4 separate regions of the Homo sapiens genome follow, and all the other regions are reported to be linked to region 3. Evidence: microRNA targets listed by miRTarBase, many of them from high-throughput screens and not tested one by one. Region 3 holds a microRNA gene; each other region holds the end of a gene's coding sequence. Distances are from middle to middle.
What was found. Region 3 holds the annotated microRNA hsa-miR-216a-5p (UAAUCUCAGCUGGCAACUGUGA, at 2,152-2,173, shown strand). A microRNA usually pairs through its seed, bases 2 to 8, with sites in the 3' UTR of a target mRNA and lowers its output. Matches are read on the target gene's strand: a 7mer-m8 pairs with bases 2 to 8, a 7mer-A1 pairs with bases 2 to 7 and ends in A, and an 8mer does both.

Region 1 (3,169 bases), 150 Mb from region 3:
GTGTTTAGATAGAGAAATAGATGATAAGAGTAGAATAAAGCAAATGAAGTAAAATATTACCAATAGGTAGATCTGGGGATTTTTTTACTTTTAAAATTTAAATCCAAAATTATTTCCAAATAAAAAGTTTTAAAACTTCTACCTAGTTTAAACATCCACCATTAAGAGTCCAGTCTCAACTTCTGCTACTAGCCCTTTCCCTCCACACATACCCTGAGCTCCAGTCATAACAACGTCATTGTCATTTTCCTAAATGTCCTTACCTTCTAGTCTTCCTTGGCAACTGCAAGATCTTATTCAAGGCAACACATGAATCCATCTCCTTAAAATGCCCTTCCCTGATCTCTGCAGGCAAATTATTTTCTTTACTGTGAGAAATGATTTCTTTTTACATGCCTACCTTCACCAGAATATGATACAGAAAAGTGAGACTCCATTTCGTGTGACCTTGAGCATGTTACTTAACTTTGGTATGCCTAAGTTTTCTTATTTATAGTATGGAGATAACAGCACCTACTCACAGGGATATTTTGTGGATTAACTAGGTTAACTCATGTAAAGTACTTACAAATGCCTGAAAAATAGTATGGACTCCATAATGTTAATTATTATGGTGATGGTGGTTGTGGTGCTGGTGATATGTAACAGAAACATGCTAGAATAATAGTAGGAGAGATTGTGATATATTCTACATGAAACATGGAAGAAACTCATTAAATATTTTCAGGTGAATGAATCAAAGTGATCAGGGATTACATAATTATATGATTATAGGGGACCAGCCTGCCCAACATGGCGAAACCCCGTCTCTACTAAAAATACAAAATATTAGCCAGGCTTGTTGGCGGGCACCTGTAATCTCAGCTACTCAGGAGGCTGAGGCAGGAGAATCGCTGGAACCCAGGAGATGGAGGTTGCAGTGAGCTGAGATCGCGCCACTGCACTCCAGCCTGGGTGACAAGAGCAAAACTCCGTCTCAAAAAAAAAAAAAAAAAAAAAAAAAGATTACAGGGAAGAAGTAATGAAAGTCTTGACCACAGGAAGAACAAGGAAGTGAGGGGGAGAGAAGATGAATTACTTTAAGCATTCGTCTAGAGCTATACAAAGTGGTAATCAATTGACTGTGAGGTAACAAGGAAGAAATAAAAGCTGTTATAGCATAATTATCTTAGGACCTTCACAAAGCCATAGTTTCGGTGGTAAATTGGGGATATGGCATCAGTGTGCTCATTGGCACTATTTCCATCAGACAATGCTGGTCAGCCTCTGATTGGGTTAAGTTACTTTTCTGAGTTATGCAAGACATTTGTTTGAAAGTTTACTATATATTTGTGGCAATCTTTAATCAGTTTGTGGTTGTAGTTATACATTAGAAAGGATCCAGATCAAAGATGGTTTATAGCCATATAACCACATAATGTTATGATGAGACTTAAAAGCAAGGGAGGGACAAGAAAAAATGAAAAATGTGACAGCTAAAACTTATTTTTAACATTAATTTTCTCATCCCTATATGGGTTTGCATGGAAAAAATAAATAAGCAATGCAATCCTGGCCCAAAACCCTATTTTATCATAGAAGTAAACTGATTTTTGTACAGCAACATAAAATAAAACCAGATTCAACTGCATTACCTCTTAATAGTATTTTATTTAAAAGTTCACAATTAGAGCACTTGTAATAACAGAAAATATTTAAAAGTAACAAAGGCTGCCCTTGGGGAGAGACTTTTTTCTTATATGTAGAAGGAATGGTGTCCTTGCCCTTACAGTGGGTGGAATTAATAGTGCAGTGTGGGACCCCATAGTTCAACAGAATCCATCGTCTTAAGGGAATGAACCTTACTTCCAAGTTATTCCAAAACTGGGGGAGAGTGTGAATGACAAAAATCTGATTATTTCACTCGGGCCAAGTTAAAATCCAATGATAAAAACAACAACACATCTACATAAACACTGTCTACCATCTGCTGATATAGTCCAGAAAACAAAACTGCAAACCAGTATTCCTTAAAGAAATCCATAGTCTAAAGCAGGAGAATCGCTTGAACTTGGGAGACGGAAATTGCAGTGAGCCGAGATTGTGCCACTGCACTCCAGCCTGGAGAGTGTGACTCCATCTCAAAAAGAAAAAAAGAAAAAGAAAAAGAAAAGAAAAGTCCATACTCTAAATGCCTCTGTCACATTTCTCAACTTCAATATAATGGGAAGGGATAACAATATTCCTGGATTAGCCAAATGGGTGAGAATGAGGATCCAAAAAGAAGCAATACACAAACATCATGATGGAAGGTTCATAAATTAAATCTATATTTAATTTTATCAAGTTTTTAGAGTATTCTGCCCTGTTAAAGTGTCCTGAGTTTGCAGATAGTGTTTTAAAAATAGAGTATCTTAAAGTATAGAAAGAGTTCAGAAAATAGAACAGCAACTTTTCCTACCTTGATCACCATTAATCAGCACCATAAAAAGTAAAAAGCTACACATAAGCACATAGGCAAGCCTAGTCCACCAAAAATACAGTATTAGTAAATGGATGAAATCTCATGAAGAGTAACTTAGGAAGGACTGTAAGGTTTTGAAGAAGTGACTGACAATTTAATTGCAAAAGACACAGAATATTAAGGCATAACAAAGTAAACTGAAATGAAGTTTAGTTATCAATATTCATCTCTGAGAAAGTTGTGAATCAGTTCCTTTAGATAACATGTGGCTCAGGTTGATTTAATAATGGGGCTGGGGTGTCTGCATCTCTATGCTGCTTTTCCAGCACTGTACTGCCTGTAGTGGAAAAGACTCTTGGAGTCCACCTTGCGAGATTTCTGCACAGCTTCAGCAAAAAGTTTGGTCACCTGAAAATATAATGGTAGGAATCAGCACCCTCCATGAGATAAAAGTGAATTTTTAATGAATGAAGACAAAAGTCACAAGTGTCTGTCCCCAGTTTTCAAAGGGGTATGGGATAAAAGGCATAAAAGTTTTTTATGTAATGGAGACTTTCTCCCATGTCTCAGACCTCACCATGGGGACTTTCTTTTATATCTCAGATGTCACTGTGAATACGCTTATTTCTCCTCCCATAGGGATTAAAACTGATTCTGCATAAAAAATAAATATGATAGGCAGAAAGTTAATGAGTCTCCACTCTGTTTCTCCCTGTGATAAATTCG
Region 2 (3,169 bases), not on the chromosome of region 3:
ATATAGGCAGTTTGCTCTGTAAGAAATAAAAATAATTTTATTTGGCCAAGAAACTTTACAGGTACATATTATTATTTGAGAGATTTATTTTAAAAGTAATATTTTGACATGTTACTTAATGGGCTAAACCTTTTGATGTTTTCTTCCAGGTTGCTGATTTTGAAAATTTTATTGGATCACTAAATGACCAGGGTTACCTCTTGAAAAAAGGCCCAAAAGTTTACCAGCTTCAAACTATGTAAAAGGACTTCACCAAGTTAGGGCCTCCTGGGTTTATTGCAGATTAAAGCCATCTCAGTGAAGATATGCGTGCACGCACAGACAGACAGACACACACACACACACACACACACACACACACACACACACACACAGTCAAATACTGTTCTCTGAAAAATGATGTCCCAAAAGTATTATAATAGGAAAAAAGCATTAAATATAATAAACTAATTTAAGAAGTGATAAAGTCTCCAGATGCAGTAGCTCACACTGTAATCACAGTGACTCAGGAGGCTGAGGTGAGAGGATTCCTTGAGGCCAGGGTTCGAGACCAACCTTGGGCAACATAGCAAGACCCCATTTCTTAAAAAAAAAAAAAAAAAATTTAAACTTAGCTGGGTATGGTGGCACATGCCTATAGTCTCAGCTACTTGTGAGGCTGAGGCAGGAGGATTCTTTGAGCCCAGGAGTTTGAGGTTACAGTGAGCCACAATCACACCAATCACTGCACTCCAGCCTGGGCAATAAAGTAACTCTTGACTCAAAAAAATAAAAAAAATTGTAGTGGTAGCCATGTGTTAATTGTTAAATAAATTCTCCAAAGGGCTAAAAGTAAATTACTTATAAATTTTTTATAGTTGTATTTTTGACCTGCCTTTTATATGTATGAATATTTCATAGTTTTGCATATCAGATGTAGGCATACAGACAAATACATAAACCAATGAATATATTACATATTCTGTGTTCCAATAAAACTTTATTTATGGACACTAAAATTTGAATTTCATAAAATTTTCCCATGTCAAGAATACAAAATACTTGAGTTTTGTTTTTAGCTATTTAATAATAGGTCTCATTTATTCCACAGGCTGTAGTTTGTAGTCTTGCTTGAAACAATAGAAACAGACTGATTAAGCAGGAGAAGTTTTTTGAAAGAATTTTGTTTGGCTCACGGAATTATTAGAAGGCAGGTGAACCAGGAGGGTAAGCTTCCAGCAGCAATTTGTAAAACCATGCCTTAGAATTGGACTAAGGAAGAAGCTGCTGACACTCCACTGCCACACAGGGCACTGGAAGAAAGTGCTGCTGCCTCCCTGCCCCACCTTTGCCACTTCTGCAGCAGGAATAGGTAGAAGAATGCCCCCACCCGCACCGGAACAGCAACAAAAGGATTCTGCATGAGATGCCTCCCTAAATTGCTGAATTCAAAAAAGAAGTTGCATACAAAGACATCTGATTGAAAAAGGGTATGTTATATGCCCCTTTCATAGGCTGCTAGGGAGTTTTCCTGGTTCTACTTTCAGGTGGTGGGATCAATAAGACCAGAATTTCTCATATGTTGTGAGAGGATTCAAATGTTACAGGGTTGCCAGCCAAACTATCAATCATGTATAAATCCAACAAACACTTTGTAACATACAAGAACTCAGGAAATGTGAACCATTGTTGGAGAATCTACTAAAATACGGCTTCCCGCAAACGAAGATGAATGGAAAATGTAAATAAAAAGAACTGGCAGTGTATATCAGATGTTTAACTATAGGACCAGAACTAAGATGTGGAGACTATTGCCATAGACCACAATGTAAATTTTTAAGTGAGGAAGGAAAAATCAGGAATCAAAAGGGGCCAGGTGCAGTGGCTCACATCTATAATCCCAGAGCTTTGGGAGTTCGAGGCAGGAGGATCACTTGAAGCCAGTTTTGAGACCAGCCTATGCAACACATTGAGACCCTATCTCTACAAAAAATAGATTAGCTGGGCACGGTGGTGCATGCCTATTGTCCTACCTACTGTGGAGGCTGAAGTAGGAAATCACTTGAGCCCGAGAGTTTGAGGTTACAGTGAGCTATGATTATACCACTGCACTCCAGCCTGGGCAAGAGAGCAAGACCTTGTCTCTTAAAGAAAAAAAAAAAAAATGGAGAAAGTAGATAGTAGTATAAATATAGTGAAGTCTTTAAAAGCTAGGAGTTAAAAGATATTTAAAGCAAATAACTCAGGCATGGTGGTGTGTGCCTGTAGTCCCAGCCACTAAGGAGGCTGAGGCAGGAGAATCACTTGAACCCGGGAGGCAGAGGTTGCAGTGAGCCAAGATCGTACCACTGCACTCCAGCCTGGGCAACAGAGTGAGACTCTTTCTCCAAACTAAATAAGAGATATTTAAAGCTGAAAAAAAATCTATTAATAGAATTTAAAACATTTCACAAAAGTCAACACATAAATAATATCAACCAAAATAAAGTGGTAGACAGAAGAGAAAATATACTAATTTATTGTTCAAAGAGGAAAATAAGTCTCAAAGGTTAAGGCTATTATATAAATTTATTTTTAAAAAGACATAAACCTACATTTTCAGAAGAAGAAGTTCCATGTTTCCTTAGATTATGTATTTAGCATCCATTAATCACAGGGCCAAACTAACAACAAAAGTTGTTTAGCTTTCCCTTACAATCCAGCTTTTATGGGTGTGCAAACATCACATTACAGTCCCTCCAACCACAAACCCCAACATATAGTATTTCACTTCCTGCCCAATAGTGGGTGTCCCCACACCTTTCAACCACTGTAGCAACAAAGCTCTGGCCTAGGCTTTTCACTTGCTTCTTTACTGCCTGACTGACTTTGGTGTTTCCTCATGTGGCCTGGTGTGGCATGGCACGCCCTCTTGGGAGATGAAAGTAATCTTCCATAGGCAATTGTTTCTGTGTCACCATTGCTGATTAAAACAAATCCTAAGTACAAATGTCAGAACAGAAACATGCAAAGCAAGAAAACATTACATCATGAAAGTTTCTTTTTTTTTCTTTTTTCTTTTTTTTTTTTTTTTGAGACAGAGTTTTGCTCTTTTTGCTCAGGCTGGAGTACAGTGGCGCGATCTTGGTTCACCGCAACCTCCGCCTCCTGGGTTCAAGCGTTTCTCCTGCCTCAGCCTCCCAAGTAGCTG
Region 3 (3,169 bases):
TTTATTACTCTCAAATACAAATCTATAGAGAGTCTCTAACAGAACTAAGATCACAAATGCATACATTGCGGTGCACCCAAAATATGCATATAGAGACATCTTAGATAATATCCTCAGAATACTTGAACAGAATGTATAGATAGTGTTAGAAACAGCTTACTCCTTGATACTTTGCTACTGTATTTCAGTTTATCTGGCCTGTGGACTATCTATCCACATTAATATAGCTTTGTTGCCAAAACAACTTTGTATCAGTTTCTTCCTTTTTCTTTTTTAAATGCCCATCACAGCAACCCACTAAGGTAGGCAAGGCAGAAACGTATATGTCTTTGCTTCCATTGAGAGCCCACCTCCCTGTGCAGTTGTGGACATGACAACTTAAGATTAATAAAAAGCTGTCTCATCTTCCACATCAGCATATGATGTTCCCATTTATGATCTTTTCTTAATGTTTTCTAGCAGAGGGAAGAAGAACTACATACTCCTGTCACTTCTCTATGGTAACTTTTCACTATTAAACTTTCTAGAGAGAAAGGAAAATCAAATATAAGATTAAGAGAAAAGAAAAAACTGAACGTCATTCATGTTGCTCTGAGAAGCCCTTGTTTTTTGATTAAGATAAAATCTGCTTATTTTTAATCCTGAGCAATTTGACTCCAGAAAATAAACTTAGAACAATATTTAAAAAGTTAAATCCTAATGATGAGACATTCTTATTTTACAAAAGTAGCTTTGTACTTAGGAGTCCATATGAGGCACAAGATTATATTCAATTGTTCTTTCTCAATTGTTTTGTAACTTTATATTTACCTGACTTTTAAAACGAAAAGCCACTTTTCTAACTCTGTAAATTACCACTCTCTTAATTGTGTCAAGTCTCAATTATTAAAGGACAAGTTATGAGCTGAAATCCATAATTCTTTGCTTCAACAAACATTTGATTTAGTTTGACAAAATTTTTTTGAGCACTTATTAAACATCAGATGCTAAACTGAGAATAGTATAGTTGAGGATATAGAGATGAATAAGCACAGTGCCAACACTTGGAAGTTTGCAGTCAATGAAGGAGAAAGCATGTGAGTGAGAAAACACCATTGTGTATTACAGGTGCCAAAAAAGGGAGACTGGGGAGAGAAGGCAGTGTGTGATAGTTTTCAATGTGTGACTGTCACACAAGGGGGTGTGTGTGTGTGTGTGTGTGTGTGTGTGTGTGAAAGAGAGAGAGAGGAGGGAGAGAGAAAGAAGAAATAATTCCAAGTATGGGCAAACACAGCTCATTGGATTCTCAGAACTTGTTAGAGCTGGAGTCTACAATGTAGAGGAAGAAATGGTCTAGTATGAAGTGAAGCTGGAGAAAGGCAGTGGAAAATCTCCACCGAAGTGCAAATCGCAGCCACCAAAACCAGACCTACTGAATCAAAATATAGAGGTAGGTCCTGGGGATCTACATTTGTAACAAGTTTCCTATGTGCTTCTTACACTCACTCAAGTTGAGATGCCATCCACGGCAGATGGTGGGGAAACTCTGAGGGCGTTTCCTCTTCCTTCCGTTCTTAATCATTATTCTTACCATTGATTAGCCCCACCCAGTGGACTGAGGGGCTTAGATCATGGCTCAGTCTCACTTAGCCATGACAGTGATGTGGGCAAGAGGGGAGGACATACCACCATCTATGAAAGGTAATAGCCACCGCTATTGACACATCTGGCCATTTGGTGAGTATACGGTCATTACTTTTTCAACGTAATTGCTGGTTTTCTTGTCTGAGGACAAATTTTAGAGTGTTTGGCTTTGATGTTTCCAAGTTCTCTATAAAGCTTGTTTAAAAAATCATTTTTAGTGATTGGTTTTACATTCACCTGTACTCCTACTTGGCTGTTTCTTACTATATATGGATTAGAGTAAATCCTTTCTAAATGCAAAGATTATACTTTTATGACATTACATGCAATATAGCATATGCCAGAAATCTGTGAATTCAGCAAGAGGAGTAGCTTGATAATGTCGCCTCAAGAAAAATGCAGAGGGGTACATCAGGGCTTCTGCTGGTGCACTCGATGTATGAAGATGTGCTTCCACCTGAGGCAGCCACGTGCCTCTGCTCATACACTTTCTCTTGCAGGTCTAACACGGATGGCTGTGAGTTGGCTTAATCTCAGCTGGCAACTGTGAGATGTTCATACAATCCCTCACAGTGGTCTCTGGGATTATGCTAAACAGAGCAATTTCCTAGCCCTCACGAATCAAAAGACTTGCATGGCAACCAAAATTAAACACCAAATTTCTATTTCATGACCAAGACGGGGGGAAAAGTTTCGATGGTTACTGTTTCATGCTCAACCTCTTTTAATCTTAGTAAAGTCTTTTTCTAAAGTGCTGTTGTGCTGGAAAGGAAACCAGCCTTGGGAATTAATTTGCCTTTATTGGATTCGCTTGCTACTTACTGCGCTCCTTCAGTGCTACTTGGTTTTTTAAAAAATTGCAGCCAAGGGAGTTTGGGTGTTAGAAGCTGAACCCAAAATATTTTCCCTCTGAAAGCTCCTCCCACTCTCTTTGTGGGTGCTACTCCATCAAATTCCAAACAGTCTAAAAGAGGACGATCTCCTGCCAGGCCCTCCTCAAACTTCAACTCCCCAGATTATCACATTTAATCGCCCTTCCTCATTCCTTCTGTAAGTGTTTCACATTCATCTGCCCTAAATAATATTGAAATTTAGAATCAACTATGGCTTAGGCTGAGGTTGCCATGAAACTTTTGAGCTGTACCCAACTCTAATTCTCGGTGATCCCTGGAAACAGATAATCCTTTTCCATAAAAAGAATAAGAACAAATGTAATTCTTCAGGGTGAAAAATCAAGGCCAGTTATCTTCCTCATTCACCCAGTAACACAAAACAAATCAGATGAACCAAATTTATAATTAAATGTGGGATAACTTTAACAACAAAAATTATTAAAATGCTATTTCCAAGGTCTTGACTGGCACATATCCCCTCAGGTATCCTCAGAAAGAGAAGTCTGTATATCTCAGTTTGATTAAATTACATTTCTGGGCCGGGCGCAGTGGCTTACGCCTGTAATCCCAGCACTTTGGGAGGCTGAGGCAGGCGGATCATGAGGTCAGGGGATCGAGACCATCGTGGCTAACACGGTGAAACCCTGTCTCTA
Region 4 (3,169 bases), not on the chromosome of region 3:
TCAGCTGTCTCACAGGTTAATGAATCAGATATATTTATGACCCATGCTAGGCTCCAAAGTAAGATTCAGGTACTCTGTATGCCAGTAAAGGCTTCAAGGATACTCCAGGGTTTAGCTAGTATAAAGAATAAAGGACAAAGAAAATGCCAGACAACCAGCCTGAGCAACATAGCAAGATCATGTTTTCACCAAAAAAAGTTTTTTTAATTATCTGGGCCTGATGGTTCATGCCTGTAGACCCAGCTACTTGGGAGGCTAAAAGGGGAGGGAACATTGGAGTCCAGGAGTTTGACAGTGAGTTATAATGATGCCACTGCACTCCAGCATGGGCGACAAAGCAAGACCTTGTCTCAAAAAACAACAAAAAGTAAACGTCAGATAGAATCCTCAATTTTAGCAACAAACCCTCATGCTAGCAGAATGGAAGTGATTTACATTTTATTTTTGATTCAAGATCTAGGAGATAGGCTGGGTGCGGTGGCTCATGCCTATCATCCCAGCACCTTGGGAGGCCGAGGTGGGCAGATTGCTTGAGTCTAGGAGTTTGAGACCAGCCTGGGCAACATGGCAAAACCCTGTCTCTACAAAAAATTAAAAAAATTAGCCAGGCATGGTGGTGCATAGTCCCAGCTACTCGGGAGGCTGAGGCAGGAGGATCGTTTGAGCCTGGGCTGCAGAGGTTGCAGTGAGCCAAGATCATGCCATTGCACTCCAGCCTGGCTACAGGGAGACCCTGTCAAGAAGGAAAGAAAGAAAGAAAGAGAGAGAGAGGAAGGAAGGAAGGAAGGAAGGAAGGAAGGAAGGAAGGAAGGAAGGAAGGAAGGAAGGAAGGAAGGACGGACTAAGAGATAAGATGGATTTTTTTTTTTTTTTTTTGAGACAGAGTTTCACTCTTGTTGCCCAGGCTGGAGTGCAATGGTGCGATCTTGGCTCACCGCAACCTCCGCCTCCCGGGTTCAAGTGATTTTCCTGCCTCAGCCTCCCGAGTAGCTGGGATTACAGGCATGCACCACCACACCTGGCTAATTTTGTATTTTTAGTAGAGATGGAGTTTCTCCATGTTGGTCAGGCTGGTCTCGAATTCCCGACCTCAGGTGATCCATCCGCCTCGGCCTCCCACAGTGCTGGGATTACAGGCGTAAACTACTGCACCCAGCCAAGAAGGAATATTAATGGTTTCAGAATAAAAGGATCAAGGCTTAAATATTCAAAAGATAATTTCTTAGATGAAAACACATGACTAAACAGTTGCACTGAAAAATGTACAAAGAAACACCACCAAATTAGAAGTATCCCAACATTTGACTGAATGTCAGCTGGGACATAGACAAAAAACAGGAAACCAAACCTAGCTATTTGTTTTTCTTTTCAGTAGGTGGCATAAAGGGGTAAGATGAGAAAAGGGATCAACAAATGTAGTTCAACTTAATTGAAGAATTCTGCCTGACGTAGTAGAGGCAAATAAAATTGTTGGTTTTGTGGGATTATATTTGTTTCCATTTAGGGACACATTTCCTGTTGTTTAAATGCCACAGCAACTCATGAGATGAAATTCATCTCCAAAATGGATCCACATAACTGAATTTCCAAGTAAATACAAAGAGTCTACAGCCCACAGAAACCATTACAAATTACACTTTTATTTTTGCCCCAACTCCTATACTAAATATGGTCTAATTCCTGAGGACTAGCAATGGTGGTTTATCCCACAGTCTTGGGGCAAGCGTCCCATCTGATAAGTCTCACTCCTCCCTCCTGCCCACCACCTCTCAGGAAAGGATTCAGAGAAACTTGGTTAGAAACTGTTGTCCTTAAGCCTTTGTGTTTTCACCTCTCCAGATAGAGGTTGAATCTTAAGTCCACAATCCGCTAAATTAACCTGTCCTGTCTAAACGTCTATCACCACAACTACCACATGCAATCACATTTTCTCCTTTCCTGCAGCCATAGGAAGCAGGAACATGTGAAAGATTCTTTCAGACAATATTTTGCAGTTGGCAGGTGCAGGGTGAATGAGGGGTTCAGCATAGCAGAGGTAGAAGGATTGTGTGGAATTGACAGAAGAATGTTTGAGAGGTATAATCAGAAAGCTTAAATGCTGTGAATCAACCCCCAAAGGCTCAGCCCAGGAGGAAATTTTACTAATGCAGGAAAGGTCAGGAGTTAAGGCATAGACTAGTTACCTCCTAGCATGGCTCAAAGTTTCTGGAATGGGACTCAGTAGAGGGCACAAAAAGCTGCACCAGTAAGTTCAGCTGGTCCAGAGGCATAGATCCTATCAGCTGAAAACCAAAACAAGTCATTCCAAGCATGCTTACAGTAGGCGTGTTTGCAAGTTTAAGGATTCAGTTTTAAAATAAACGAAAACAGAACTAGAATGTAGTATTACAAAATTTCTCACAAGCATAATCACAAAAAAAAAAGTTAGGATATTGCATAGAAAAGGGTCCTGTAGTATGCTTTGTAAACCTAGACCTTAGTAATTTAAATAAAAGACAAACAAATAAAATATCTCTTCATAGTCTACAAGTCCATGATTGTGAATTCAGGAGAATTATCAAATTTGCAGATTTTTGTGGCAAGACCTAAGAAGCTCCTGAAGTTCTTTATTCTCAGAATCATGATTAAATTTACCCTTTGAAGGCTCAGGCTGACACAGTTTAACAACATCTTTATCAAATGACTGGGGCTACACAAGCCCAAGCCAATTCTATAGACTTTATGCTCTGTCCTCTCTGCATATAAGACTTAATCAGAACATACAGGGACATGAAATCACTGCTATTTCACTGTTTTTTAAAGCTAGGCTGTTTGTTTTTTTCCTCCTGTTAGTCTATTTAGCAAATTAAATCTGCCTGCGCTTTTAATAGTAAGGTTTGGATAGCTAGTTTAGGAGTAAGTGAAACATTTTAGAAGAGCATTTATGTTAACCTTGACAATAGGATGGGAGATTCTTAACCCCCCTTGTAATATGCACCGATTGATTCTGAGTTAAAATACACCACAGTGACAGTGATATCATCCCTGTACATCCTCGCCAAGTCCTCTGGCAATGTCAGCATCGCCGCCAGCCGCTCTGCCTCCATCTCCCCATACTCATTGTTCCCGATGGCATGTCTGATCAGCCGCGTGGCTGCATTTTGGTCAGCCTCGTGGAGCCCGCTGGCTT

Region 1: the mRNA of CPS1 is a reported target of hsa-miR-216a-5p. Seed matches in the 3' UTR shown: 7mer-m8 at 2,540-2,546.
Region 2: miRTarBase lists MCM8 as a target of hsa-miR-216a-5p. The part of its 3' UTR that is shown has no 7-base or 8-base seed match.
Region 4: the mRNA of PDP2 is a reported target of hsa-miR-216a-5p. The part of its 3' UTR that is shown has no 7-base or 8-base seed match.

The regions. Positions count from the first base shown.
Region 1 is chr2:210,677,569-210,680,737 of GRCh38, reverse strand. CPS1 (carbamoyl-phosphate synthase 1) reads right to left here. Exons shown (of 38, transcript NM_001875.5): 38 at 1,631-2,851. The coding sequence ends at 2,753. Among named protein-coding and RNA genes, the nearest start is that of CPS1-IT1, 62 kb to the right of the region's middle.
Region 2 is chr20:5,994,150-5,997,318 of GRCh38, forward strand. MCM8 (minichromosome maintenance 8 homologous recombination repair factor) reads left to right here. Exons shown (of 19, transcript NM_032485.6): 19 at 150-3,169. The coding sequence ends at 242. All of the region lies in intron 3 of MCM8-AS1 (MCM8 antisense RNA 1), which reads right to left. Among named protein-coding and RNA genes, the nearest start is that of MCM8-AS1, 10 kb to the right of the region's middle.
Region 3 is chr2:55,988,024-55,991,192 of GRCh38, reverse strand. It overlaps MIR216A (microRNA 216a), which reads left to right and starts at 2,134; the gene lies at 2,134-2,243. The region is part of intron 2 of MIR217HG (MIR217 host gene); the gene reads left to right. All of the region lies in intron 3 of LOC105374690 (a long non-coding RNA gene), which reads right to left.
Region 4 is chr16:66,885,660-66,888,828 of GRCh38, reverse strand. PDP2 (pyruvate dehydrogenase phosphatase catalytic subunit 2) reads right to left here. Exons shown (of 2, transcript NM_020786.4): 2 at 1-3,169. The coding sequence ends at 2,955. Among named protein-coding and RNA genes, the nearest start is that of PDP2, 6.7 kb to the right of the region's middle.